4 linked regions of the Homo sapiens genome follow. The protein of the gene in region 2 purifies or fractionates together with the protein of the main gene of each other region. This does not show direct contact. Each region holds a gene or a part of one and is shown on either strand. Other genes may lie near its edges.

Region 1 (8,476 bases), on a different chromosome or scaffold from region 2:
ATTCAGGTTTAAGTAAGAAATATGGATGCCACCTACCCAAGCTGCTGCATTCTTTAAGAGTTTTCTCCTGAAGATGTTCTAACCGTACTGTAAATAAAAGTCCAAAAAAAAAAAAGATATTTCACAGATAACAAGAAAAAAAATAAAATAAAATCAATTTCTGGATTAGCTACTTACCTTGTAAAGCTGTTAGCCTTTCATTGGTGAAATCATTATCAGCTTGCAAAGCTTCTATTTTTGCCTGGAGCTCCTGTTCTTTTTCTTCCATTTCATCTATTTTATGTTGTAATTCTTTTTTCTCAGCCTGTCCCTTCTGTTGGATTTCCTCTTGTTTTCCCTCTGCTACCTAGAAAAATAAGAAAATTCAGTTATTTAACAAACCTAACTCTGTTTTAAGAGCGAGCCCCAGGAATGCCTTTATTCACTTAAACTTCTAAGAAAAGTTTGTTCTGTAGAAAAGAAATGTTCTACAGAACATTATCTGTAAACCTGACATTTCTTTCTTTCTTTTTTTTTTTGAGATGGAGTTTCACTCTTGTTGCCTAGGCAACCTCCGCCTCCCGGGTTCGAGTGATTCTCCTGCCTCAGCCTCCCAAGTAGCTGGGATTACAGGCATGCGCCACCATACCCAGCTAATTTTGTATTTTTAGAAGAGACGGGGTTTCTCCATGTTGGTCAGGCTGGTCTCGAACGCCTGACCTCAGATGATCAGCCCACCTTGGCCTCCCAAAGTGCTGGGATTACAGGCATGAGCCACTGCGCCCGGCTAACCTGACATTTCTAAACCAGTAAAGATGATAAAGACAAAGGCTTGATGTCAAAAATTATCTGCATTGGGTTATTCCTCCATAACACCCAGGAGAGAGAAACTTGGAGGAAGCAAGTAGGCTCAGTACACACAGAGGTAAAGGGTCAATGTGGAAAAAAAAATCGTATTTTTAAAGAGGGAAGTAAGATTTTTCCCTAAAATTACTATCATTTCAATTTTGAAGTTCTATCATGTTAACATTCTGAAATTTTAAACAAAATTATTTAGTAACGAGATGACAGTACAATCACTATTCAAAAAGACCTCTCTGCCTATAGTTTGGATGTTCGTCCCCCAAGCCTCAATGTTGAAATTTGATCCTCAGTGTTGGAGATGGGGTCTAATGAGAGGTGTTTGGGTTATGGGAGCAGATCCCTCATGAATGGCTTGGTGCTGTCCTCATGGTAATGAGTGAATTCTCACTCTATTAGTCCTATGAAAGCTGGTTTTTAAAAAGAGCCTGGCACCTCTCCCAGACCCTCTCTCACCATGGAACACGTACCAGCTCCACTTTGCTTTCTGCCATCAGTGGAAGCAGCCTGAAGCTTCAGCCTGCAGAACTGTGAGCCAAATAAACCTCTTATCTTTATAAATTACCCAGGCTCAGCTATTCCTTTATAGCAACAAAAATGGACAATGACAATCTCCTTTTAACAAGACCAACTTTGAAAACTATCATAGGTTAACCAACGGAGGTATGCTCTGGTCTTCTCTAACAAACACATATCTTCTAGGCACTCAATCCATAGTTTGAATTAAACCAAGATGGACCTTCACAAACAGTTATAAGATTTTTTTTTTCCTCAGTTATAAGATTCTAAAGGACCAACTAGACATTACCCTATCATTACCCTATGATCTGATCTGTCCTTATCCTAGATGTCTCATAGATAGAGGGAATGGCAGCTAAAGCAGAGTTAACAGCATCCCTGAAAGCTAAAAGGGAGATCATTCCCAGATTCTCTCTGGGCTTGTTCCAGCACAGCACTAAATAGCTGGGCCCTGCCTTTTAGATGGCCTAATGATAAGCAGTTTTAGGTTTTAAAACATCTGAATATCATGGGTTTTGCTGATTCTCATCTACTTCCTGTTATATATTTTAGAAATGTCTATTGTGAAGCACTGACTACATATTCATCCAGAGGAACTATGTCAGCATTTACAGGCTTTCAATTATCTATAGTAATGGAGGTTGGGCTAAATGGAATACAGACACCTTATTTTCACTATAAATTTCAACTGTTACCAAATTTTTACATCAATAACTATTCAGCAATACCTAAAATCTTTTTTTATAGAAATCTTATTTAATATGTAGTACCACCTACATCCTGCTTTCATACTTTCAGCATAATTTAACACATTCAAGGAGACTATGCAAATCAATTCAAAATATCTATCTATACCAGTGGTTTTCAAACTGAATTTTTTTTTTTTTTTTTTTTTTGTGAGACGAAGTCTTGCTCTGTCGCCAGGCTGGAGTGCAGTGGTGCAATCTTGGCTCACTGCAACCTCTGCCTCCTGGGTTCAAGTGATTCTTCTGCCTTAGACTCCCAAGGAGCTGGGACTACAGGCATGTGTCACCACGCCCAGCTAATTTTTGTATTTTTAGTAGAGACGGGGTTTCACCATGTTGGCCAGGATGGTCTCAATCTCTTGACCTCATGATCTGCCCGCCTCGGCCTCCCAAAGTGCTGGGATTACAGGCGTGAGCCACTGCGCCTGGCCCAAACTGTTTTTTGTTTGTTTGTTTGTTTGTTTTTCCTTTGAGATGGAGTATCGCTCTGTCGCCCAGGCTGGAGTGCAGTGACGTGATCTCAGCTCGCTGCAACCTCCGTCTCCTGGGTTCAAGCAATTCTCCTACCTCAGCCTCCTGAGAAGCTGGGATTACAGGCGCCCGCCACCCCACGCCCAGCTAAAGCAATACCTAAAATCTTAAGCTATCTAGTGTGTTAGGGATTATTAGCTTAACATACTTTCAGGCAGAGTAAATACATACCTTTAATTTATCAGATAAATCTTTAATCTCATTAACTGCTCCATTATATTTGTTGGCTAATTCTCTTAATTCTTCCTGAGTCCTTTCATTCATTTCTTTCAGATGGGTACATTCATCTTCAGTATTACTCAGACTTCGCTGCGATTCAAGTTTACAGGCAATTTAATTAGAATAAGTGTATATTTGTTATTTAGAATTCCTTCTAAATGAAATTTATAAAAAGTATAATTCTATGGACTATTCTAAATCAACATCTGCCCTGGACTTTAAATAAAGCTGAGTCAAATAACATAAGAATTTCAATTCACACTAAAACAGAAAACATAACTAAGAATTAACAAAAACAACAAAAAAATAAAAGTGGAGGGAGAGCAGGGGCAGGAAAAGGATGCTGCCTTTATATAATTACATTTTTGAAAGGCCAATGGGTATGACTTTTAGCTGTGAAAATATTTTAAGCCTATCAATCCTTGAAAGCAAGTTTAATAATATCCAGCAATCAATTTAATAAAAAATTAAAAGACACTTAGTAACTTTCTTTATATATCAAATTAATCACACAACAGTGAATCAGGCACTATGGGATGAGGTAGCAATACAAACTATACCTGTAGTAAGGAAAGGTATGTTTACCATTTAGTTTCTGATGAGCATTTTAACTAATTCTAGTAATACATTATTTATGTGGTAATTTTGCAGTGGTTCAAAGAAAAGATCTATATTATGAATTAGAATTTTTTTCCCCAAAGCAATAAAAATTGCATTTTGATTGCTCCTCCAAGACCTAGAAAGGACCTTGGAGATGATTTCACCTTTGAACTTCCTAAATATATGACACAGCTAGTTTTCCTCTCTGCAGAGTGAATTAAAAAAGAACAAGTAGTGTAGACTCTTGGCCTTACACTGACCCCCCTCAAATAGAAGCAAAGCAAAACCAAGTGACAGGAAATCAATTCCCCAGCACATATCATGGTCTGCTGTATGGAGGGTGAATCCTAAGCAGAATGCAAACAATAAGATTCCCTGGTTACGCTTTTATTTCCTCAGCCATTGACTAGGGAGTAAGTACCAAAACTCACATGGAGAATTGCTGTCAATGAAAGCAGCGTAACTGTTCCTTCCCACCTGACAGACAGAAAGTATTTCCTAACTATATAATAATACCCAAGTTTAAAGTATCCTGGAATGCTTGAGATTTTTTTGAACACTCATAATACTATTTAGTATTTTTTTTTTGATTGAAATACCTCAACTTCTGAAAGTTTTCTAACCACTTCAATTTTCTCCTGAAGAACCCGCCTCAGGGACTCTTTGGCTGTTGTCTCATAGTTATGTTTATCCTCTTGTAATGCTATAAGTTCCTTTCGTAAACTATCTTCTGTTTGATTCTACAATAAAAGATATTTATAATTATAGACAAGTTATTTTTTAAAAGCATTTATTGTTTGAAAAAAATTAACACATTATGATATACTTTAAATTATATATTAAGGTACCTCCAAACATAAATGATTCTGGCCCTGTATTAACTAAAGATGTATTTACAAGTTGCATAAGTAAATTATGCCTTCACAAACTTACTAATTTCCACTTCCTATAGAAAAAAAAAGTTATAGGCAATTGAGAATTTCCCTAAAATATACAAAATTAGTTACTTTTATATTTGTCATATTTTCTGCAAGCCACCATATTCACATTTGTAGGCAAAAATAATCAATTACCTTCAAAGGCACCAAGCATTCTGAAACAATGGTTAAAACAAAAGGAATAAGAGTACCATGGGGGAAAAGCAGACTTCATGTCTGGGGCAGGAAAAGTACAAAATGAGCCTGAAACATCTTGTCTGAAATGACAGCATGAAGCTATCACTCTGAAGACATTTACACAGACCAAAGATGGGATAATTTGAGCATCAATAAGAAAAATAGGCTGGCCGTGGCACTTTGGGAGGCCGAGATGGGAGGATTGCGTGAGCCCAGGAGTTCAAGACCAGCCTGGGCAACATAGCAAGACCCTGTCTCTAAAACAAGAAAAACAACTGCACCAGATTTAAATACATCAAATATGTTTAAATCTAAGTGGAGTGAGAAAACACTTCATGGCCAGTCTTTGGTAGATGAAAAACCACCAATTCATTATTCTGAAATCTAATAAATAAGGGGAGAAAATCACTTATCTTGCTTTCCCCGTAGAAAACATACCTCAGGGTTATTTAAATTTTTTTATTCCAATACCTTTAGAGATACAAGTGGTTTTTGGTTACATGGATGAATTATGTAGTGGTGATGTCTGGGGTTTTAGTGCACTCATTACCTGAGTAGTGTATATTGTATTCAATAGGGAGTTTTTCATCCCTCACTCCCCTCTCACTTTCCCAACTTCTGAGTCTCCAATGTCCATTATAGCACTCTTTATGCCTTTACATACCTATAGCTTAGCTTCCACTTATAAATGAGAACATGTGGTATTTGGTTTTTGATGCCAAAGTTACAAAAAACAATGGCCATTGTTTTTCCTTTTTTCGTTTTTTTAGAGACAGGGTCTCTCTTTGTCACCAAGGCTGGAGCGCAGTTCTGCGATCATAACTCACTGTAATCACAAACTCCTGGGCTCAAGCGATCCTTCCACCTAAGCCTCCCGAGTAGCTAGGACTACAGGTTATGTACCACTATGCTAAGCAAATCTTTAATTTTTGGTAGATACTGGGTTTTGCCATGTTGCCCATACTGGTCTCAAACTGCCCCCGCTTTTTTTTTTTTTTTTTTTGAGACAGTCTCGCTCTGTCGCCCAGGCTGGAGTTCAGAGGTGCGATCTTGGCTCACTGCAACCTCCACCCCCACCGGGTTTAAGCAATTCTGTCTCAGCCTCTTGAGTAGCTTGGATTACAGGTACATGCCACCATGTCCAGCTAATTTTTGTACTTTTAGTAGAGACGGGGTTTCGCCATGTTGGCCACGCTGGTTTTGAACTCCTGACCTCAAGCAATCCGCCTGCCTTGGCCTCCCAAAGTGCTAGGATTACAGGCATGAGCCACTGTGTATGGAAGGAAACTTCTCTTTATAGAAGTAACCCAGCTAAATAAGTGAAGGAATAACAGAATTACATCATTATTTTTGTAACTTTTTTGTTGTTGTTGTTGTTGTTGAGACAGAGTTTCACTCTTGTTGCCCAGGCTACATTGCAATGGCACGATCTTGGCTCACTGCAACCTCTGCCTCCTGGGTTCAAGGGATTCTCCTGTCTCAGCCTTCTGAGTAGCTGGGATTACAGGCATGTGCCACCATGCCCGGCTAATTTTGTATTTTTAGTAGTGATGGGATTTCTCCATGTCGGTTGGACTGGTCTTGAACTCTCGAGCTCAGGTGATTCGCCCGCCTCATCCTCCCAAAGTGCTGGGATTATAGGTGTGAGCCACTGCGCCCAGCCTTATTTGTAACCGTAATGAAATAATGGATCTAGCCTGGGATCATCAATGATTGATAAAAATCTCAAAAAGAAAGACAACTAGACATTATGTTGTCCCTTGGTGGAAGAACACAATACCATCCATAAAGTGTTGTTGACAAAAAGAAAAACTGAACCTAAATCACATCAAATCTCTAGATGGAACTACTACTTTATGGAGTGGGAGGGGGAGCTAAAAAATGTTTAAATAACAATGCAGACTGAGGGAAATTCTAGAGGACAAATGACCCAGTTTTTTCAAGAAATATTAACTGCAATAGAAAAAAGACAGACTTGTACATGGGTATTCATTATGTAATTATTTTTATTTACATGGATGTCTGACGTTTCTCAGCACAAAAGATTTAAAAGAATTGTGGAAATGTATGAAGTTTTTAGCATATACTCAAAATGATAGTCAAAGAAATGATGTTACATAAAAAACTATGCATTTCATTTTACACATTTGAGGTTAATACCTACTTTGGAGCATGCCTGTAATTGGTTTCCCATAACTTCTAACCGTGATAAGAGTCTATCTTCATCTATTAAAGCCTATTGAAGAAAAATTAAATGTAAGTAAAACCCGAGTAATTATAAAGTCACATGTATATAAAAAAAGGTTGCTACTGACAACAAAAGATATAAAAGCGTAAAACTGACCAGCATCCACTGTAAAATGCTAAATCTTCAACAACTTGTTCATTAGTTAGGAAATAACTTTGTCTTTGTTTGCTACATTTTAGTTTATTTAACATGTATGGAATATTAAACTATGTTTAAATGTTTCTTAAATATAAAACAACTGGAATACCTGCCAACTGGTATCTGAAGCCTCTTGGGTGATGGCTAGTAGCCGCTGAAGCGTGGCTAACTTCTGTTCCAACATTTGTTCCCGATGTAAGGCCTCCTAGTATTACAAATCACAAAACAGATTCTAATAAGCTCATCATGATTCTTTTGAGGAGTGATCAATTTTCAGCATATTCTAAAATATTTTCATATTACATCCCACTTGATGTATTTTAAAGTAGTGAAACTTGATAGTACTTTGTAAAACATACAGCAGTCCCCGCTTATCTCTGGTTTCCCTTTCCACAGTTTCAGTTATAGTGCAGTACAAGATATTTTGAGAGAGACAGACAGAATGTTGACATTCACATAACTTTTATTCACATAACAGTATACTGTTGTAATTGTTCTATTTTATTATTATTGTTAATTTCTTACTATGCTTAATTTATAAGTCAAACTTTATCATAGGTATGTGTATATATAGGAAAAAACATAGTAGATATAGGGTTTGGTACTATCTGTGATTTCAGGCATCTACTGGGGGTCATGGAACATATTCCCTGCAGATAGGAAATGGCTACTCCATGTATATGGGCCACATCATTTTAGTCTCATTTGTTGGGCTGAAAGTACTGCTATTAGAGGTTCTCTAACTGCAACTTCTCCCATAATAGAAAACAAGTCACCTGTTTTTTGTTTTCTTTTTATTCATAATTTGGAAGAGCAAGTTTTTAAAAACATACAATAGAAAAAGCTAACAAATGTTTCAGGTTTGCATTTTATACACACACACACATACATACACACTGTGTGTATGTAGACATATATCTATGCATACACACATACACAGTCATGCACCACAAAACAACATTTCAGTCAACTATAGACTGCATATACACAGTAGTCCCCAAAAATTACAATGAAGCTGAAAAATTTCTATCGCTTAATGACATCATAGCCATCCTAACATTGTAACACAAGGGGGCATTACTCACGTGTTTGAGGAGATGTTGGTGTAAACAAACCTACTGTGCTGCCAGTTATATAAAAGTATAGCACATATAATTATATATAGTACATAATACATAATAGTATTATATGACTTTATCAGTTTATGCATGTACTATACTTTTTATTGTTAATTATAGAGTGCATTCCTTCTGCTTATTAAAAAGAAAAAAACATTAACTGTAAAATACCTTCAGAGAGGTCCTTTAGGAGGTATCCAGAAGAAGGCACTGTTATCACAGGAGATGACAGCTCCATGCATGTTACTGCCCCTGAAGACCTTTCAGTGGGATATGATGTGGAGGTGGAAAATAGTGATAATGATGATCTTGATACTGTGTAGGCCTAGGCTAATGTGTGTGCTTATGTCTTCATTTTTAACAAAAAAGTTTAAAAAGTAAAAGCAAGTTTAAAAAATTTTT
Region 2 (8,476 bases):
TCAAGACCGGCCTGGCCAAGATGGTGAAATCCTGTCTCTAACTAAAACTACAAAAATTAACCAGGCGCAGGGGCGGGCGCCTGTAATCCCAGCTATTCAGGAGGCTGAGGCAGGACAATCGCTTGAACCCAGGTGGCAGAGGCTGCAGTGAGTTGAGGTCACGCCACTGCACTCCAGCCTGGTGACAGAGCGAGACTGTCTCAAAAAAATAAAAAAATAAAAAAAGTAAGAAAAAGAAACACATGATCATCTCAATAGGTGCAGAAAAAGCATTTGACAAAATTTAACACCATTTTATGATCTAAAAAGCACTGAATGACCTACGAATAAAGGAAACAACTTCAATATAATAAAGACCATATATGAAAAATCCATAGTGAACATCATACTCAACAGTGAAAAACTAAAAGCTCTCCTCTAAGATCAGGAAGAAGACAAAGATGCCCTTTTTCACCACTTTTATTCAAAGTAGTACTGGAAGGTCTAGCCAGAGCAATTAGGCAAGAAAAAGAAAGAAAACAGATCTAGATTGGAGAAGTAAAATTATATGACATGGGTCTCGTATGTAGAAAACCCTAATGATTTCACATCCAAAAAACCTGTGAGAATAAATGAACAAATTCAACAAACAGGACACTTCCCCCTATTTTTAAAGAGATAACCATCTGTACATTTTTCTTCAAAATTTAACCAATTTCTAGGCATAGAGCTAGATCTAGGTTTATATTCCTTTATCTTCCACAAGGCCTAACTCATTGCTAGCTATATCGTGAGAAGCCAATAAATATTTGCTGATTGAACAGCACTTTTTCTTTTTTTTTTTTTTTTTTGAGATAGGGTCTCTGTCACCAGCCTGGAGTGCAGTGGTGCAATCACAGCTCACCATAAACCCTTTCCTCCCACCTCAGCCTCCTAAGTAGCTAGGACTACAGGTGCACGCCACCTAGCCCAACCTTTTTATTTTTTACAGAGACAGGGTCTCACTATATTGTCCAGGCTGGTTTCAAACTCCCAACCTCAAAGTGATCCTCCCTCCTCGGCCTCCCAAAGTACTAAGATTACAGGTGTGAGCCCCCACACCCAGATGGGTGGTTTTTAATGCTCAAATAATTCAACTATATGTCTCTTTTATTTTCTAAGATCTTCAAATAACATAACAAATCCGAATAGCTGTCTACTTTTTTTTTTTTTTGAGATGGAGTCTTGCTCTGTCCCCCAAGCTGGAGTGCAGTGGCACGATCTCGGCTCACTGCAGGCTCACTGCCTCCCAGGTTCACATCATTCTCCTGCCTCAGCCCCCGAGTAGCTGGGACTACAGGCACCCACCACCACGCCCGGCTAATTTTTTTATATTTTTAGTAAGAGATGGGGTTTCACCATGTTAGCCAGGATGGTCTCGATCTCCTGACCTGGTGATCCGCTCGCCTTGGCCTCCCAATGTGCTGGGATTACAGGCGTGAGCCACCGCACCCGGCCAGCTATCTACTTTTATTATCTGGCTATCAAAATGAAGCCAAACAGCCTCGATTTATGGTATATTTTCCCTTTAAAAATGTTATCATCAGCCAGGGCAACATGGTGAAACCCCATCTCTACAAAAAATCAGCCAGATGTGGCAGTGTGCGCCTATAGTCCCAGCTACTTGGGAGGCTGAGGTAGAACAATCACCTGAGCCCAGGAAGTTGAGGCTACATTTTGCCATGCTTGAGCCACTGCACTCCAGCCTGGGCAACAGGGTGAGACCCCGTCTAAAAAAAAAAAAGACAGGTGCAGTGACTCATACTTGCAATCCCAGCACTTTGGGAGGCCATGGTGGGTGGACTGCTTGAGCCCAGGAGTTCAAGGTGGGCAGCATCGCAAAACCCTGTCTCTACTAAAAATTCAAAACAAAAAAAATTTAACCAATGCCTAATCCAATATACTAGTACGCTCCAATTTATATTATCTTTTTATTAGCCCCTTAATGAAATTGTATTTTTGTTTTTGTTTTTGTTTTTTTTTTTTTTTTTGAGACAGAGTCTTGCTTTTGGCCAGGCTGGAGTGCAGTGGCATGATCTTGGCTCACTGCAACCTCCGCCTCTTGGGTTTAAACGATTCTCCTGCCTTAGCCCTCCCGAGTAGCTGGGACTACAGGCACATGCCACCATGTCTGGCTAATTTTTTATGTTTTTAGTAGAGACAGGGTTTCACCATGTTGGCCAGGATGGTCTTGATATCCTGACCTAGTGATCCACCTGCCTCGGCTTCCCAAAATGCTGGGATTACAGCTGTGAGCCACCACACCTGGGCTATTTTTATTTTTTTAAGATACAAGATCTCACTCTGTCACCCAGGTTGAAGTACAGTGGCACAATCATAGCTCATTAGACCCTTGAAGTAGGATCAAGTGATCTCCCCACCTCAGACTCCCTAGCTACTGGGACTACAGGTGTGTGCCACCATGCCTGGCTAATTTATCTTTTCGTAGAAACAGGGTCTTGTTATGTCGCTCAGGCTGGTCTTGAACTCCTGGCCTCAAGTGATTGGCCTCCCAAAGTGCTGGCAGCCACAGTGCCCAGCTTAATATGCCATCTTAAAACAAAATGAGGGTTGACTAAACTTTTAAATAGGCATTCCATTAATTCAGTGGAATCTTCTCTATGCGAAAAGATATAAGAATACTTAACTATGTCAGAGGTAAAATGCTTAGGTTATTGGAGTTGTAAAAGGAACTATTTTGTTTTGTTTTGTGAAAGAGCACGCTTTATTGGGAAGCAGACTGCTGCACAGTGACCAACAGACAAAGGCCACCCAATGGGCACTTACACATCGTACTCCAAAAGACACAGGGTGAAAAGAAACTATTTTTATTACCTGTTGAACAGCTAGTGTACTGTCCATTTCATCAAAGGATTCATCAGGCCAATTATAGAAATCCTATAAAAATAAATTCACGGTTAAAGCACATACAAAATACTATTATGATTAACTTCAATTCTTAATAAAGACCCAAAGCTCACACTAGAGGGGAAGAAAAAACTTTTGCAATGTAATTATCAGTGAAATAAGGAAATAAATTTTATTCAACTTTTCTTTTTTACAGACAGGGTCTCACTCTGCAGCCCATGCTTGTGTGCAGTGGCACAATCATAGCTCACTACAGCCTCAAACTCCTGGGTGTAAGCAATCATCCCACCTCAGCCTCTCACCTTAGCCACCCTATTCTTAGGATTATAGTCCTGACCCACTGCGCCTGGCTGTTTAATGTTTTTTAAATGAATATTAAGATTTTATTTAATTGAACTATAAATTACGTTTTTTCCAATCACAGATTCCTCAAATACAGCTCCCATAAACCTTTAATGTATTACTTAATTGGGGAGACAAGTCTATCACTTTTTTATGATGGTTAAATATCTCTCAAAAAGTTACAATGAAAAAAAAACTCCAGACACCAAAAAGTAAATCAGATTTTTACCAAAAGAGAATATCTAGCATTAGTAGCTAATTTACTGCTCCATAATTATTATTATTAATATTATTATTATTATTTTGAGACCACTCTGTCGCCAGGCTGGAGTGCAGTGGTGCGATCTCAGCTCACTGCAACCTCCACCTCCTGGGTTCAAGTGATTCTCCTGCCTCAGCCTCCCGAGTAGCTGGGACTACAGGCACGCACCACCACACCCAGCTAATTTTTGTATTTTTTGTAGAGACAGGGTTTCACCATGTTGGCCAGGATGGTCTCAATCTCTTGATCTCGTGATCCGCCTACTTCAGACTCCCAAAGTGCTGGGATTACAGGCGTGAGCCACCATGATCGACCCATAAGTATTATTTTAAAAAGAAATTATAAATTATTATTCTCATTCCAAATAGAGTTTTGAATTTCTAAATCAAAATATGGGCACCATTAAAAAGTAATCATCAGACTGGGCATGGTGGCTTACACCAGTAACCCTACCACTTTGGGAGGCCGAGGCGGAAGGATCACTTGAGGTCAGGAGTTCGAGACCAGCCTGGCCAACATGATGAAACCCCGTCTCTACTAAAAATACAAAAAATAGCCGGGCATGGTGGCGTGCGCCTGTAATCCCAGCTACTCAGGAGGCTGAGGCAGGAGAATTGCTTGAACCCAGGAGGCGGAAGCTGTGGTGACTCAAGATCACGCCACTGCACTCCAGCCTGGGTGACAGAGCAAGACTCCATCTCAAAAAAAAAAAAAAAAAAAAAAAAAGGTAATCACCCATGGGTACAAAAAAAATAGAAAGAATGAATAAGACCTAGTATTTGCTAGCACAATAGGGTGACTATAGTAAAAACCAATTTAATTGTACATTTAAAAAAAACTAAAAGAATCTAATTTTTTGCAACATAAAGGACAAATGTGTTGCAGGAAGTCAGGGACCCCAAACTGAGGGACCGGCTGAAACCACGGCAGAAGAATGTGGATTGTGAAGATTTCATGGACATTTATTAGTTCTCCAAATTAATACTTTTATAATTTCCTATGCCTGTCTTTACTGCAGTCTCTAAACACAAATTGTGAAGATTTCATGGACACTTATCACTTCCCCAATCAATACCTTGTGATTTCCTAGGCCTGTCTTTAATCTCTTAATCCTGTCAGCTGAGGAGGAGGTATGTCACCTCAGGACCCTGTGATAATTGTGTTAACTGCACAAACTGTAGAGCATGTGTGTTTGAACAATATGAAATCTGGGCACCTTGGAAAAAGAACAGGATAACAGCAATTGTTCAGGGAATAAGAGAGATAACCTTAAACTCTGACCACTGGTGAGCCGGGCGGAACAGAGCCATATTTCTCTTCTTTCAAAAGCAAATGGGAGAAATATCGCTGAATTCTTTTTCTCAGCAAGGAACATCCCTGGGAAAGAGAATACACGCCTGGGGGTGGGTCTATAGACGGCCCCCTTGGGTATGGCCGTCTTCTATGGTCGAAACTGTAGGGGTGAAATAAACCCCAGTCTCCCATAGTGCTCCCAGGCTTATTAGGAAGAGGAAATTCCCACCTAATAAATTTTGGTCAGACCGGTTGCTCTCAAAACCCTGTCTCCTGATAAGATGTTATCAATGACAATGGTGCCCGAAACTTCATTAGCAATTTTAATTTTGCTCTGGTCCTGTGGTCCTGTGATCTCGCCCTGCCTCCATTTCCCTTGTGATATTCTATTACCTTGTGAAGTACGTGATCTTTGTGACCCACACCCTATTTGTACACTCCCTCCCCTTTTGAAAGTCCCTAATAAAAACTTGCCGGTTTTGCAGCTTGTGGGGCATCACGGTACCCACCGACATGTGATGTCTCCCCCGGACGCCCAACTTTAAAATTTCTCTCTTTTGTACTCTGTCCCTTCATTTCTCAAACTGGCTGATGCTTAGGGAAAATAGAAAAGAACCTACGTGACTATCGGGGCAGGTTCCCCGATACAAATGTTTATGGTGATGGATACCCCATTTACCCCCCTGATGTGATTATTATACACTGCATGCTTGTATCAAAATATCTCATGTAACCTACAAATATATACACCTACTATATACCCACAAAAATTTTAAAAAGAGAAGGAAACATCAAATAAACCAGCTTTCTGTTAAAGGGAATATTTTTATTTCTTCTTCTTTTTTTTTTTTTTTTTTTTTTTTAAGAGACGAGGTCTCACTTTGTTGGCCAGGTTGGTCTCAAACTCCTGGTCACAAACAATCCTCCAGCCTCAGCCTCCCAAAGTGCTGGCATTACAAGCATGAGCCACCATGCCCAGCTTAAGGGGGATATTTTTATAGAGCATCTTGCCCTGGTTCTGGAATTCTCTGTAGATAATACAGTTAACAGATATTCCCCTAAGTGATTAAGAACCTTTCCATTTGACTGATTTTTCAGAAAAGTTTACCTATGTAACCTCAGTGGGTAGCACAATGCCTGACACATCTTTGAAGCTCAAATGTCTCTGAGGTAAAACTTGGTGGGGAGGAGGTAAGAGTAAACCAATAATCTATAAACCTGTATATAAACCTGTAAAAACAATCAACAAAGATTAAGTCTTCAAAACCTTGAGCAAAAAAAGCAAATTAGAAGTAAACACAGTGTATATAAAATGAATAAAGTTTAGGCCGGGCGCGGTGGCTCACGCTCAGCACTTTGGGAGGCCGAGGCAGGCGGATCATGAGGTCAGCAGATCGAGACCATCCTGGCTAACACGGTGAAACCCCATCTCTATGAAAAAATACAAAAAATTAGCCAGGCGTGGTGGTGGGCGCAAACCCAGGAAGCGGAGTTTGCAGTGAGCCGAGAGTGCAGCACTGCACTCCAGCCTGGGAGACAGAGCGAGATTCTGTCTCAAAAAAAAAAAAAAAAGTTTAAGTGCAAGGCATACTTATGGATATAATGCATATATAGTAAAAGTATACAGAAAAGAAAAGGAATGATAGGGTAGAAGACAGAGAATGTCTTCCATAAGGATTCAACTATAGTAGCAATGTCCCCGTTTGGACAGTAGGTAATGAGTACACCTTTTTAAGTGTCTTAAACATTTCATCTTTTTTGAAATAGCTGGCCTATCTGGATGAAAATGAACTAATTTTATTAAAGGAAAATATCAAGAAATAAAACAATCTTCTAGAAATGGTTCCAGGATTCCTTTTCTTAGACATTATCTATTAAAGAGCAATTCTAAAATTTTTCCTATATGATCTAAAGTTTCTACCAATACTCTGTCTATTCTTTCCTTTTTAAAAAAACTAAGGAAGTTTACAGAATGTTGTTTTTAAAATATTAGAAAACACATGTACAGTTGGCCCTCCATATCTGCAGGTTTAATCTGCAGATTCAATCAACCAGGAATTGAAAATATTCATTTCAGGGGAGAAAAAAAATACAGAAAATGTTATATTGTTGCTGACATGTACTATGTACCTAGTTAGGTCTAAGATAGTTGCGTATGTACTAAACATGTACCGGCTTTCTTTTTGGTCATTATTCCCTAAATACAGTATAACAACTATTTACAGAACACGCATTGCATTAGGTATTATTAAGTAATCTAGAGTTGATTTAAACTATATAACAGAATGTGCATAGGTTATATGCAAACACTATGCCATTTTACTTAAGAAACTTAAGCATCCTCAGATTTTGGTATGGGGTGGGGGTACGGAGTTATCCTGGAGCCAATCCCCAGAGGACACCAATGATGACTATATATAGAAAAGATGTTGAGAATGAAATGTTTCGCCTTCTCATAACTGTGACATATTTTAGATGCCTATGAGAGACACCAAAAATTCAGCTTAATAAAGATTCTCATCTAATTCAACCAACAAACATTTATTGAAAACCAACTATGAAGCCCAGCGTGGTGGCTTGCGCCTGTAATCCCAGCACTTTGGGAGGCTGAGGCGGGAAGATCACTTGAGGTCAGGAGTTCGAGACCAACCTGGCTAACACGCTGAAACCCCATCTCTACTAAAAATACAAAAAAAATTGGCTGGGCGCAGTGGCTCATGCCTGTAATCCCAGCACTTTCAGAGGCCGAGACGGGCGGATCACGAGATCAGGAGATCCAGACCATCCTGGCTAACACAGTGAAACCCCATCTCTACTAAAAATACAAAAAAAAATTAGTCAGACGTGGTGGTTAGCGCCTGTAGTCCCAGCTACTCGGGAGGCCGAGGCAGAAGAACAGCGTGAACCCGGGACGTGGAACTTGCAGTGAGCCAAGATCGTGCCACTGCACTCCAGGCTGGGCGACAGAGTGAGACTCTTGTCTCAAAAAATAAAATAAAATAAATAAAAATAAAAATAAAAATAAAATTAGCCGGGCGTGGTGGCAGGCACCTGCAATCCCAGCTACTCAGGAGGCTGAGGCAGGAGAATCACTTGAACTTGGGAGGCAGCGACTGCAGTGAGCTGCGATCGTGCCACTGCACTCTAGCCTGGGCGACAGAACGAGACTCTGCCTCACACACAAAAAAAAAAAACCTCCAGGTGCAATGGCTCACGCCTGTAATCCCACCATTTTGGGAGGCCCAGGCGGGCAGATCACCTGAGGTCAGGAGTTCGAGACCAGCCTGGTTAACATGGTGAAACCCAGTTTCTGCAAAAAATTAGCTGGGCGTGGTGGCACGCGCCTGTAATCCCAGCTACTCGGGAGGCTGAGGCAGAAGAATCGCTTGAACTCGGGAGGTGGAGGTTGCAGTGAGCCGAGATCGCACCATTGCACTCCAGCTTGGGGGCAACAAGAGAGAAACTCTGTCTCAAGAAAAAAACAAAAAAAAGAAAGAAAGAAAGAAAAAGAAAAAAGAAAACCAACTATGTGCCTATATTCCAGTCTAACCAACTTTTTTTTTAATGTAGGAAGATACTCCACCTACTCTCCTATAGTTTTTTGTTTGTTTGTTTGAGACCGAGTTTTGCTCTTGTTACCCAGGCTGGAGTGCAATGGCGCGATTCCGGCTCACTGCAACCTCCGCCTCCCGG
Region 3 (8,476 bases), on a different chromosome or scaffold from region 2:
CATTTTTGTCAACAGACTTTAACACTAGTTGAGGGATACTCAACCTGTAGCGATTTTCAAAACACACAATAGTTTGTACACACACTGTAGGAATCACAAAGTTACTCTAGCCCCAGATTACTTTATGCCAACTAGATGCGCCCAGCCCAGACTCTTAATTTGAAGCAACTCTAAAGAGCAGGGACAATGGCAAGTTCTATTCCAACAGAAGTGTTCTCTCTAGTGTTCTAAATCATTTCTAAGGTATGATTCTGACTGCACCTCTAACCTCCCTTAATTTCTGCAAAATGCTCATGCTTGGTTCTCCAGCTTTTCTTTTGATTCTAGGCTACCATGTATTCTTCTACAAATGCCTTTTCTGCTTATAGCCTGGTAGGATTCCCAAGAGTTATGGACAATGTAGCCCATACTTTCTTCTCCTTGCTTGTAATTAATTAGAATGAGATTATATGCAATGAAGTCTTCCAGAAAACATGGGTTCTCTTCAGTTTTAATCTAATTGTGTAATCTTAAGGCCTTTATACCCTTCAGTTTCTTTTCCTGAGATCACAAATTAAACAATAATTTTACCAGAAGCCAAGTTTATTCCACAAAACAGCTCCCAATACACCACAAACATTCTGCACACCACATATTTTTTGCATATGAAGAACATGGCTGAGGAGATTATATACAGAAACATAATGGTTGTCTGGGAGGTAGGAGGGCAGGGGACAGGAATGGTGGGTAGAGTGCATTTGCTTTCCTTGCTACCTTTCTGAGGTGCTTGCACAAATTTTCTTTGAGACAGGGTCTCGCTCTGTTGCCCAGGCTGGAGTGCAGTGGTGTGAACGTAGCTCACTGCAGCCTCAAACTCCTGGGCTCAAGCAGTCCTCCCACTCAGCCTCCTAAAGTGCTGAGATTGCAGGTCTGAGCCACCGTGACTGGCCAATGCTCGAAATTTTAAAAAACAAATTCTGTATTACTTTTTCAAACGGAAAAAACCTGGCTTCTTAAACTTCAAAACAAATTCCAGATGGCAGTAATTATAAAATATCCACACAATGGAATTTTATTCAGCCATAAAAAGGAACGAAGTCCAGATACATGCTACAATATGGAGGAATCTTGGATATATTATGCTAAAAGAGAGAAGCCAAACACACAAGACATAACCCTGGAAATGAAATTCAAATCAAAAGTACACGGAAGAACCGACTGTGGGAATGCTGACAATGCTGCTGTTGGAGAGACTCCAAATATGCAGCCAGGAACTTAGCAACACGCAGAAACTTAGTGACATAAAGAAGTGAAAATCCAAACTTATTGCATAAATGAGGAAAATTGTTTTGGAAGAAGTGATGCTAGCAAAAATCTCTTTCTGTATTTGTCAGGAAAGATCACTTTTACTTCGGCTCCTAAATAAATCAGACGAACAGTTCCTAGGACTTTATAGGTATATTTAAGATTATCTCTTGTATCTCACTAGCTTTTGTTTTTTTTTAAGACATGGTCTTAATCTTCTTGACAAATACAGGTATTTCATGACACTGAAAGCACAAAGGAGGCCGGGGGCAGTGGCTCACACCTGTAATCCCAGCACTTTTGGAGGCCGAGGCAGAAGGATCACTTGAGTCCAGGAGTTCAAGATCACCTTGGACAACATGAGGAGACCCTGTCTCTACAAAAAAATGAGTAAAAAAAGCCAGGTGTGGTTGTGTATTCCTGTAGTCTCAGCTACTCAGGAGACTGAGGCGTGAAGATGGCTTGAGTCCAGGAGTACAAGGCTGCAGTGAACTATGATCATGTTACTGTACTCCAGCCTAGGCGACAGTAAGATCCTGCCTTTAAAAAAAAAAAAAGCAGCTTCCTGGACCTGCCCAAGACATGTCAATCAGTCTCTGGAATGGAGTCAAGGAACATGAATTTCCTATTTCTTTCCCAAGTGATTCTCATGTGCGCTTAAAGTTTATGGAAAAGATGGACAATCAGACTATACAAAAATGCTAAAACTTGCACAGTAAAAATTATACACACATATCACAAAGTAGAAAATAAGACCTTAAACATTTTTAAATGGCTAACTTTTGGAGAATTTATACAACCAAGAAAAGACAAAATACAATTTTTTTTTTTTTTTGAGACGGAGTCCTGCTCTGTCGTCCAGGCTGGAGTGCAGTGGCGCGATCTCCATCTCAGCTCACTGCAACCTCCGCCTCCTGGATTCAAGTGATTCTCCTGCCTTAGCCTCCCAAGTAGCTGGGATTACAGGCGCGTGCCACCACACCCAGCTAATTTCTGTATTTTTAGTAGAGATGGGGTTTCACCACGTTGGCCAGACTGGTCTCAAACCCCTGACCTCGTGATCCGCCCGCCTCGGCCTCCTAAAGTGCTGAGATTACAGGCATAAGCCACTGTGCCCAGTTGACAAAATACAAACTTAAAACAAAAAAAGAATATGCCAACTCAACTGGAAAAATCCCTCACATTGCACACACTCCACAATTCTGATAAATCTAGCCTTGTTTTCTTCATGTATTTTGGTATTGCCATTTATTATTATTAAGGTTCTCGTCCCTCAGAATTTGCTATGGAATAAAAATCTGTATAGTGAAGAATTAACCTCACCCGAGGAGAGGTCTGGCCTTTGCCCCTGGAATTTCCTGCTTGGTAAAGAGATCTCTGCCTGGGGGCTCTGACCTGCGGACCATTAACAATGTGACTCACGATGCGGACTTTGGATGATCCCACTATCAGTTTGGTCTCTGGAGGACTGGACACTACAGATGTCAGCCCCTCTTGTACTCTGCCCTTATGAGTCTTTTCCCTTGGCTTACTTTAAATTGTATTCATTCCCTGTAATAAACCATAATCATCAGTGTAACAGCTTAAAGTGAGTTCTGTGAGTCATTCCTGTGAATCACTGAACCTAAGAGTGGTTTTCGGAACCCACTGAACTAGTATATTGGTGCCAAAACTGAGGCAGTCCTGGGCAGTGTTCCCTGTAATTTATAGTTCACTGAACTTTATTTTTTGTCTGCTGTTCTGAAGGTACATCATGACTAAACTTTTGAAGATGGTGTCAGAGGTGAGAACAGTGTTAGGGACTGTGCCTTCTAACTCTCGCAAAATCCTTTTTAATTACAAAAGTAAACCACATTATAAAGAATTTGGAAGGTTTTCTATGACCACCCTATTAAAAAAAAAAGAGTCTCTTGAATTCAAGCCCATCACTGTCCCCATCTTCTGCTTTTTCTTGCCAGCAAGAATCAATGCCTGGTGTTCATTAATCGTGTCCCCTCTTCACAGCTGAATCTCTAGCACTTTGAACAGTCTGGTACATAGTGGTTCAACTAAAATCTGTTGAATGTACGGGATAACTACACAGTGGCAGCATTCTGTCAACCAATCCTCTCCTTTCTTCTTCACTGCCCACAGGAACAAGCGCCTCTTTTGCTACTCAAGCCAAGTCGAGAATACACTGAACCAATTCTGAGCTCTCATCATCCAGGACATAAATATCATGCGGAACTCTTTTAAACGAAGATGAAAATTATTTCCCTCTCTATAAGATGGGATTTTGAGCTGGGCGCAGTGGCTCACGCCTGCAATCCCAGCACTTTGGGAGGCTGAGGCAGGCAGGTCACAAGGTCAGGAGATCCGAGACCATCCTGGCTCACATGGTGAAACTCCATCTCTATTAAAAACACAAAAAATTAGCCGGGAGTGGTGGCAGGCACCTGTAGTCCCAGCTACTCGGGAGGCTGGGGCAGGTGAATGGCATGAACCCGGTAGGCGGAGCTTGCAGTGAACCGAGATGGCACCACTGCACTCCAGCCTGGATGACAGAGAGAGAGACTCCATCACAAAAAAACAAAAAAAAAGAGATTTTGAGCAAAATTAAACTACAGCCTACACACCGTATCCTGCATATTAAAAAAAATCCAACTATGCTAAAAAGTTAATTCAAATAAGCTTTTTTCTAAGATTGAATAGGTGAGAACACTTAAATTCACCACTGTATCCCAGTCTCAACATAAAAACGATTGTCTTTGTATAAAATATTCACTTAATAGATCTCCAATGGAGTCTTCCACATTTTTGGTGTAACATGATGCTATTATAACGCAAGTCAGGAATCTCAGGTTGCACCTCAGGATTGTCTTTTAATTCATTTGATCACAAAAGTATCTCAGTCAAAAAACAGTTTACAAGGAATGATGATAAATATTTCTAAATTACAAAGGACACAACAGCAAACCAGTTCTAAGCTTGAGTGCTTGAGCTCTCCCATTCTCTGGAAAGGAAACGGAATCTGTAATACACAGAACTCCTTCCCAGGGTTAATATGATTTTTTTTTTTTTTTTTTTGAGATGGAGTCTCCCTCTGTCACCCAGGCTGGAATGCAGTGGCGCGATCTCGGCTCACTGCAAGCTCTGCCTCCTGGGTTCACGCCATCCTCTTGCCTCAGCCTCCCGAGTAGCTGGGCCTACAGGCGCCTGCCACCACGCCTGGCTGATTTTTTTTTTTTTGTATTTTTAGTGGAGACGGGGTTTCACCATGTTAGCCAGGATGGTCTGGATCTCCTGACCTCATGATCCGCCTGCCTTGGCCTCCCAAAGTGCTGGGATTACAGGCGCGAACCACCATGCCCGGCCGTTAATATGATTATTAATGAAATTTAGAGTTGAAAAGTAACGTACAGGAACTATTAGATCACATTTGGTCATTAAGGAAGAAAAGATGTCTTCATACAAGTTTCTTTAAACAATCTGGATTAGGTTTACATTTCATTACATTTACTTGAAGGAAATCAGTTCAAAACAATAAAAAATTTCTATTTAACACAGACTCAGATTTCTTATACAGATTACTTCTGTAACTTTAATATCATTCTTCTTAGAAAAAACTACATTCAGAAAACAATCTAGGAAAATTAATTAAGCATTAATTCCATCTTCAATTTCTGGCATTTTCATTTCCTTTTACCAAGGAAGGGCTTCATTCACCAAGTCTTTTATAACATTCGTACTGAAGAGAAAAGACTGTGAAGAAAAAATTTCTGCAAGATCTTCAAATAAGAATAAAAGGCACACACGGCAATAAAAGCAGGCAATGAAAAGAAATTTTACATTGCAAATATCTTCACTTTATCTACTTAGGTAAATATCTTATGGCAAGGGTATATTATTGTTAAAGGGCAGTATTAAGTATTAAATATATTTACCTAGTCATATATATTTGACACGTCATATATAAAGTAGAGAAATGTAACAAAGTCCACTTTCCCGCCATTAGCAATAGTTCATGCTAGTCTAGTTTGGTTTAATTTCTTTACCTGTCCACTAAGAGGCTGGCTTAGCAAGGAAAACAATGATTTGTTCAGTCACTAGAATTGGGTCTTGACCCTCTATTTCACTGTAATCATGCCATTCTTCATTATACTAAGAAAGGAGCTATTTTATCACTGCATTTTAGATTTTATCAATGGACCACCAAAGCTGGCACTAATTTTTGTTCGAGGGAAATTAAAAATGGAAGTACCAGTTAGGCATTTTGCCTGTCAAGACCACTATTTTTATTTTTTAAGCTGTAATCAATCACAGAAAGTAATCTAAAAAAATTTTCTCAATTCACAAAAATCACTCATTTTTACCAGAATCTAATCTTCATTAAGATGGTTTTGGGTATTCAGGAACAAGCATACTATTTCACATTAGGAATGAAGTCATATCCTAAAGTTATTTCTGCTTATTTCAAGGCTAACGCCAGGACTTAGAAACATTTCCATCAGTTCAATATAAAATTTACATATTTATACTTCTACACAAGCCTCGACATTTTTCTCAATACGTACTTTATAATCATCAGAATAAAGATCTGCCAGCACACACATTGGCTGAATTTCCCTCCCCACCTAAAGAATCATCACCAAGGTTCTTCAGTTATAAAATTTAACAGGTCAAAGAGCTTAAAATTTTTACTCTTTCTGAGACAACAGTTAAATATAGTTCTAGTCACAGAGTGTCCTGAGCAGTGCCAGCCTGGCTCTCTTGGCACACAATCTTCTAAAATAACTGCATACTGCTGATGCAGGAATGAATCACAGAAGCAATTTCTCTGCACACACAAGAGGAGTCAAATTCACAATTAGCTTCAAAAGCTGGATTGCTAATTTAAGCTAGTGTTAAGAGCTAGTCTTCTCAGAAGACATGCCTTGCTATTTTATGCAAACAATTTTTCACTAGGCAGAAATTAACCTTGGAAGCCAGACACACCATACCATTCATACTCTTTATTTTTTGTAGTCATTCACCCACTGGCACTAGGATAGATTTTATTTTTGCAACTACCTCAAAATAGGCCTTTACTAGTACTACTCTGGTCTTGATTTCAGTGGACTCCTTCAGCTTTCTTTTTTTGGAGACAGAGTCTCACTCTGTCGCCCAGGCTGGAATGCAGTGGCGATCTCGGCTCACTGCAACTTCTGCCTCCTGGGTTCAAGCAATTCTCCTGCCTCAGCCTCCCGAGTAGCTGGGACTACAGGCACACACCGCCATGCCCGGCTAATTTTTTGTATTTTAGTAGAGATAGGGTTTTACCATGTTGCCCGTGCTGGTCTCGAACTCCTGAGCTCAGACAATCCGCCCACCTCGACCTCCCAAAGTGCTAGGATTACAGGGGTGAGCCACCATGACCAGCCGACTCCTTCAGTTTTTAGGCAATCTGAATTAGAATAGAAATTTAAGGAAAAACCACCATCATACGATGTAACTTCCTATAGAATAGTATTTCCAATAGAATAAAAAAAGGTATTTTTAAAAAACCCAAAAATTGAATCACAAGGATTAAAGATAGTTTATATAATTAGGTTTGACTCTTTATTTTTCTCATATTTTCTTTCTACATGCCTGCTACTCTTGCCCTAGAAAGGTAGGGCAAGTATTAAGTAGACCAAGTCAGGAGTAAAGATACTTCACACAACTGCTATTAATTCCAGTACTGTGTGGTTCACATAACAGGCACCACTACTTTTCAGGGTTCTATAGCCACTATATAAAAAAAACTCCTTTGAAGTATATTTACCAAAGAAAAGGCATATTGGCACATCTATTCATTTTGCATTTCTTACAAAAGAAAATGGGTGACACTTATGATTAAAACTTTCAGCCTTCCTTTAGTTAACATTCACTGCGTGCTTACTTCTCATTAGGACTTTACATGGCCTTTTTTTTTTTTTTTTTTTTTTGAGAAAACTGCATTCTGTCACCCAGGCTGGAGTGCAGCGGTATGATCACTGCTCACTGTAACCTCTGCCTCCTAGGGATTCTTGTGTCTCAGCCTCCCAAGTAGCTGGGAGTGCAACACTACGCCCAGCTAATTTTTTTTTTTTTTTTTAGTAGAGGCAGAGTTTTGCCATGTTGGCCAGGCTGGTCTTGAACTCCTGGCCTCAAGTGATCTACCTGCATCGGCCTCCCAAAATGCTGGGATTACAGGCGTGAGCCACTGTGCCCGGCCAATGAATATATATCTTAGCACTCACAACCAACCCGGGAGGATTGGTACATATTATCTCTGTCATAAGGAATCAGAGGTGCAGAAAGACTGACAGCTAGCAAGCTGTGAAGCAGGACTGGAACTCAGACAGGATGAATGCTACACTTGTTATGTATCAACAAGGAGGATGGGGTAGGGATATAAAACGGAACTAGAAACTAAGGTCAGAAAACATATATATGTATATATACTCATACATACACAAACCACAAAGCTAGGTCATAGCTGCCAGAAGAGGGCTGCAAAACTAAGCACGGCTCAAAAAGAGTAGAGAGAAATGAGTATTATCACACTTTTCCAACCCATTGGCAACTCCATCAATGGGGGTAGAGAACAAAGATGAATGAATTTCACTAACAAATTCATGCTTTGTGGGTAAGGACAAATATTCAAAGAAAAAAAAATGGGCTAGGAGTGGTGGCTCACTCCCGCAATCCCTGCACTTTGGGAGGCCAAGGCGGGAGGATCACTTGAGCCCGAGAGTTCGAGACCAGCCTGGGCAACACGGTGAGACCCCATAAAAAAAATAAAAAAATTATCCCGGTGTGGTGACACATGCCTGTGGTCCCAGCTACTTGAGAGGCTGAAGTGGGAGGGTCCCTTATGCCCCAGAAGTTGAGGTTGCAGTGAGCGGTGATTGCCCCACTGCACTCCAGCCTGACTGACACACCAAGACTGCGTCCCCCCCCCGCCCCCAAAAAAGGCTAGTAAGATACAAGAGATAATCTTAAATATACCTGTGAAGTCCTAGGAACTGTTAGTCTGATTTATTTAGGAGCCGAAGTAAAAATAATCTCTTTTGACAAATACAGAAAGCTTCCTCAAGTGATCGTTGACACTCCGGTGTGATTATTTCAAAGTACAGCAGTGGTACAATATTCTTCTCTAGAAGTTCATCTTAAAATTATTAGAAAGTCAATAGGGGCTGTGCACGAGGCT
Region 4 (4,899 bases), on a different chromosome or scaffold from region 2:
TGGCCTCACTGGCCTCTGCTAAAAGTTGTGGGCAAGCCGGCAGGCCTGGGGGCTCCCACTAGAGGTGGGGTCAGATGTTGGGATGGCCAGAGGGCTGCCCAGCCTGTGGGCACTAGAGCCAGTGAAGGGCCAGAGGCAAAGCAATGCAAGTTGTCTTTTAAGGCTGGAGTGGCGAGACGGGACAGCAGGGAAGTTGTTCAGCAGACAGAGCGCAGACAGGACTGGGAGGAGGGAAGGGACGGGGTGCAGACAGGACCGGAAGGAGGGAAGGGACAGTGAGGCCAGGGAGTGGCGGGCACGGGGGTTATATTTGTTCCCCGTGGCGTCACTCGGCACCAACCTCAGACTGGGTGAGGCCACAGAAACATCTCCCACAGTGCGGGAAGCCGGAAGTCCAAAATCAAGCTGCTGGCAGGTGGGTTCCTTTGGGAGGCCTTGAGGGAAAATGTCCCCACCTGACAGCATCTGGTGGCTGCGGCAGTCTTCTTCTCGGGGGGTCCCCGACTCCACCCATGTTGCAGGGCTCCGGTCTGCCGTGTCACCAGCTGTCCTCCCTGTATCTGCACTCTAATATCCTCTTCTAAGGACACGGCTCGTGCTGGGCTTAGGGCTCGTCCTAGTGACCTTACCTTGACTCGATCGCATCTGCAGAGACCCTGTGTCCATGTGAGGTCACCATTGTAGGCACGGAGGGTTTGGACTTGTTGGGGGTGCAATTCAACCCACAGCAGGGTCTGAGGGAATGGGATCCAAGAAGGGAGAGGAGCGGTGGCCCCAATGAAGGGCCACGAGGAGACAGGGCAGGCTGGTCTGGTTCTGAACAAGGATGTTGACCCTCTCGTGAAGGCAGTGAATGGAGACAGGTCTGGGAGCCACCAGCATGGCCTCGGCCTCCTGAGTGCAGGGCAGGAGACTCATGGCGCGCAGGGCCCGTAACACGCTGGAGGCCAGGATGGACCCGACACAGGGGAGCGGGAGGCTCGGCCCGGCCGTGGGGAGCGAGGAAGGGCCGCTGGATGTGCCTATTGATAAAGAGGTTTCCAGAGGCTATTGGAATGGCCAGGCAGAAGCTAGAGAGCGCTAAGGAAGCTGCTTTGGAAACAAATGGGCCCAGACTGTGATGGGTGACATGTATGAACCCCACTGTGGGCTGGCTGCTGTGTGAAAATTATGTGAGTCAGTATGAAAATACCTAGGAAAGGGGAGTGTGCCACCCTCCTTGCTCCATGTTGCGTGACCCAAGATGCCGCATGGGCATCAGCCCAGCCCTGGCCACCACCAGGACCTTCTGGGAACCTGGAGCCTTGCATTTTCTTGTTCCTTTCTGCCACTGGGGGAGGAGGATGGATGGCTGGAGCTGCCTGCCTGGCCTGGAATGCCCTTTCTCCCCGTCTGCGGGGTCCCCCACATCCTGCAGCCCCTCACGGACCTACTGTCAGTGTCCATGTCTCCCACTGGACCCTCCCTGAGCAACTGGAGGGCAGGGACATCAGACCATTTGATCCCAGCTCCCAGCACAGAAGCTTAGTGCCAGGGGCACCCAGAGAGATGGAATGAGGCAGACTCGGAGGTCTGTATTTTTTATTGTGGTAAAATAGCTATACCACAATATTGGCCAACTTAACGATTTTTACGGGAACAATTCAGTGGCATTAAGTGCCTTTACAAGGTGGTGCAACTGCTTTGAGTCTCTGCTGGTGATGTCACTTTGGCAAAGGGACGAAATGAGCCACCAGTGCGTCAGGCCTGCTCAGAGTTGTTTGGAGGTAGCATGGACACAGGTGCCTGTCCCTGCCCCCTAGCTGGGCTGCAGCGCATCCTAACAATGCTCCAGGGGCTGGGCCGGCCCTGAGCCTGGAGGTGGGCAGGGCTGCAACTGCCTCCTGGGCCACTAGAGGGCATGTGGGAGCCACTCACATGCACCCCAGGCCCCACTTCCTGGGTAGGGTGCCTGGCCCCTCAAAACGAGTGCTGCTCTGAGCTTGTTGGGATGGATCTTTCCCTCCTTCAGCTTCCGCCTGCTGGCAATGCATGGGGTCCTGCGCCCCCATTTCTGCCTCGGTGTCACAGGGCACACCCCTCTCCCCTCAAGGTGGCTCTTCTCCTCAGGACACCACTCCCGTTGGATTTAGGGCCCACCCTACCCCAGTGTGATCTCGTCTTCACTAGTTACCCTGCAACGAGCCTATTTCCAAATAAGCCTGTGTTCTAAGGTACTGGTAGTCAGGACCTCAACGTGTCTTTTGGGGGGACACAGGGACCCCAAGATGCCCCACAGCAAGTGACAAGGGGAAGTGATGAGATCAGGGTCCCAGGACCTGCCAAGTCTCCCCACACACGGGGGAGCGGGGGTGGGGCCCACATCCTTCAGTCACGGACATGCCCCAGCCCAGGGCCCTGGTGCAGGGAGAGCTGCTCTCTGTGCCCTCCTGGGGCAGGTGCCCGCTGTGCTTCTCACAGGCCTCCTTGCCTTTCAGAATCAGTTGTCTGGAAACCTGCTGAGGAAATTCAAAAACAGCAACGGGTGGCAGAAGCTGTGGGTGGTGTTCACAAACTTCTGCCTGTTCTTCTACAAATCACACCAGGTAAGTGTCTCGCACAGGGCAGGTGGCCCTGGGACCTTGGGGGTGGCAGCATGAGGTGAGGGGGCCGCCCTCCTCTGGAATGACTCAGGCCTCTTGGGCTCCAGGTGTCACGGGGATGACAGGGATGCTGGCGGGGGGCCCTGTCCACCCGAGGCCCTCAACTCTAGGGAAGACTGACATTATCATCCACTGAAGGACAACTTCTGCCCTAGGAAGGGCCACCTGTCTTCTGCCTGGACAAGGGACGGGGGTTGGCTTTATCTACAGCTCAGTCCTGGCGGGACTTGCCACCCGGGCCATCACGTACAGGCAAACACTGGCTGCCATGGTCCCTTCCAGGCCCACGCCCGAGGAGGGAGCTGCCTGGGCTCCCAAGTCCCTGTCTGATGCGGGGCAGCAGCCAGGCCCAGCAGCAGAAGCTGACCCCGAAAAGCCACTTTGCTTTGTTTCCCCTTTCCAGGACAATCATCCCCTTGCCAGCCTGCCTCTGCTCGGCTACTCGCTCACCATCCCCTCTGAGTCCGAGAACATCCAGAAAGACTACGTGTTCAAGCTGCACTTCAAGTCCCACGTCTACTACTTCAGGGCGGAAAGCGAGTACACGTTCGAAAGGTAGACACCCCCTTCCCACGCACAGGGCCCTGCAGAAGAGGACCCCCTCTTCCAAACATCAGGATTTCTCCCAAGTCAGCGAGTGAGATGGCCCCACCCTTCCCTGCCAACTAAGCGTTTAGACCTGGGGTCCCACTGCCCGACACCAGCAGGCGATTCTGTTCTCATGGCAGAAAGTGGGGTCCCAACTTCCCTGCGCCCTTACCCTGCACGGTGTTGGCTGAGGCCCTAGACATCTTGCTTGGAGATCTCTGACATAACGTGTCCGGGATGATGAAGCTAAGCCCCAGTGAGACTGCCTACATGGTGTAATGGCAGGGACTGCAGACTTCATTTAGCCAAGAAAGAAATGCAACAGTCAGGCCTAAGACTGTTCCTGCAATTCATATTTTGAATAGAGATCCTGGGCCTCTGCAAATTGCATCCCCAAGCCGACTACTTGTGCAGTTTGCCCTGCTGAGCCCTCCTCGCCCCGGGAGGCAGAAGGGGAGGGGTCCTCAGCAATATGCTGAGCACCTCCTAAACAACATCACCTGAAAAAGGAACCTAGAGGAGAGCCATTCTCAAATCTGATCCTGGACTGAGCTCGAGAGCTGGGTTGAGAGCTGGGTTGATCAAAGTTGGGATTTTGCTATTATTGTGACAAAGGGTCCAGCCTTGCAGTCCAGATCCTGAAAGGCCTGGGACAAGGCCAGGTAATTTGGGGAGTCCGTCCTGCATTGTGCAGGATGTTCAGCGGCATCCCTGGCCACCCACTAGATGCCCGCAGCAACCCCTCAGTTGGGACATCTAAAAATGTCTCCAGACTTTACCAAATGGGACAGCATTGCACCCATTTGAGAAGCACCGGTAGAGAGCAAATACACAAATATATAAAAAGGGAGATTTGGGCGTGGTGGTGCAAGCCTGTAGTCCCATCTCCTGGGAGGCCAAGGCTGGAGGATCGATTGAGCCCAGGAGGTAGCTACAGTGGGCGATAACTGCACCACTGAACTCCAGTATGAGTGACAGAGCCAGACCCTGTCTCAAAAAAAAAAGAAAAAGAAAAAAGGAAGGGAGAGCTTCCACTAAGCAGGATGGGACACGTCCCGCCATTCTCTGCCATGTCCATGAAAATAGGAGGTAGCGTTCTCCCCAGCAACCAGAGGCCACCTCGCTCCTAACTGCTCCAATGGAGCGGGCAGTGTCACTGCAGCAAGGTACTTCCAGCTCCACACTGAGTGAGTGCCCAGGCCAGTGGGTCTCCACTGTACCTCAGGAACGCCTGGGTGCTGGCTGTTCCCTTGCTCTTCTGCTGAAGTGGCAGATTACCAACCAGGCGGCCTGACTTCACCTTGTGTTTCTGTAAGCGATGCCCACCAAAGTGTCAGGAGTCCGTCCAAACAAAAGGTTGACTAACTGGCGTTCCCGTGTTGCAGGTGGATGGAAGTGATCCGCAGTGCCACCAGCTCTGCCTCGCGACCCCACGTGTTGAGTCACAAAGAGTCTCTTGTGTATTGATGGCCGGACACACTCGTTTCCGCAGTGGCTGCTTTCCTGGAAGACGTTTCCTTTCTTCTGTATTAATGAAGCCTGGTAAAATTAACACCTGTCTGAAAATCAAAAACATGGCTTCCCAGCAGCTCTCCTGTCTCCACAGCCGCGTTTTTTAACCCCGACCTCTCAGCGTCTGAATGAACAGCGCTCCCACCTCCAGTCCTGG

Evidence for each region.
Region 1: the proteins of MOB4 (region 2) and SLMAP purify together in Homo sapiens (affinity purification with mass spectrometry; 3 studies listed by BioGRID and IntAct, with this or other methods). This does not show direct contact.
Region 3: the proteins of MOB4 (region 2) and PPP2CB purify together in Homo sapiens (affinity purification with mass spectrometry; 6 studies listed by BioGRID and IntAct, with this or other methods). This does not show direct contact.
Region 4: the proteins of MOB4 (region 2) and STK24 purify together in Homo sapiens (affinity purification with mass spectrometry; 4 studies listed by BioGRID and IntAct, with this or other methods). This does not show direct contact.

Annotation. Positions count from the first base shown.
Region 1 is NC_000003.12:57,856,418-57,864,893, reverse strand, and holds part of SLMAP (sarcolemmal membrane-associated protein), read right to left. Parts: intron 7,162-8,476; coding exon 7,066-7,161; intron 6,807-7,065; coding exon 6,735-6,806; intron 4,196-6,734; coding exon 4,055-4,195; intron 2,946-4,054; coding exon 2,808-2,945; intron 347-2,807; coding exon 178-346; intron 88-177; coding exon 37-87; intron 1-36. UniProt on the Homo sapiens protein: Associates with the striatin-interacting phosphatase and kinase (STRIPAK) core complex, forming the extended (SIKE1:SLMAP)STRIPAK complex.
Region 2 is NC_000002.12:197,518,064-197,526,539, reverse strand, and holds part of MOB4 (MOB-like protein phocein), read right to left. Parts: intron 2,917-8,476; coding exon 2,854-2,916; intron 1-2,853. Other genes in the region: HSPE1-MOB4 protein, read right to left, coding at 2,854-2,916.
Region 3 is NC_000008.11:30,801,716-30,810,191, forward strand, and holds part of PPP2CB (serine/threonine-protein phosphatase 2A catalytic subunit beta isoform), read right to left. Parts: intron 1-8,476.
Region 4 is NC_000013.11:98,443,621-98,448,519, forward strand, and holds the end of STK24 (serine/threonine-protein kinase 24 isoform b precursor), read right to left. Parts: 3' UTR 4,698-4,899; coding exon of another isoform or gene 4,616-4,697; 3' UTR 3,198-4,615; coding exon of another isoform or gene 3,046-3,197; 3' UTR 2,586-3,045; coding exon of another isoform or gene 2,478-2,585; 3' UTR 1,565-2,477; downstream 1-1,564. Other genes in the region: FARP1 (FERM, ARHGEF and pleckstrin domain-containing protein 1), read left to right, coding at 2,478-2,585, 3,046-3,197, 4,616-4,697. UniProt on the Homo sapiens protein: Serine/threonine-protein kinase that acts on both serine and threonine residues and promotes apoptosis in response to stress stimuli and caspase activation.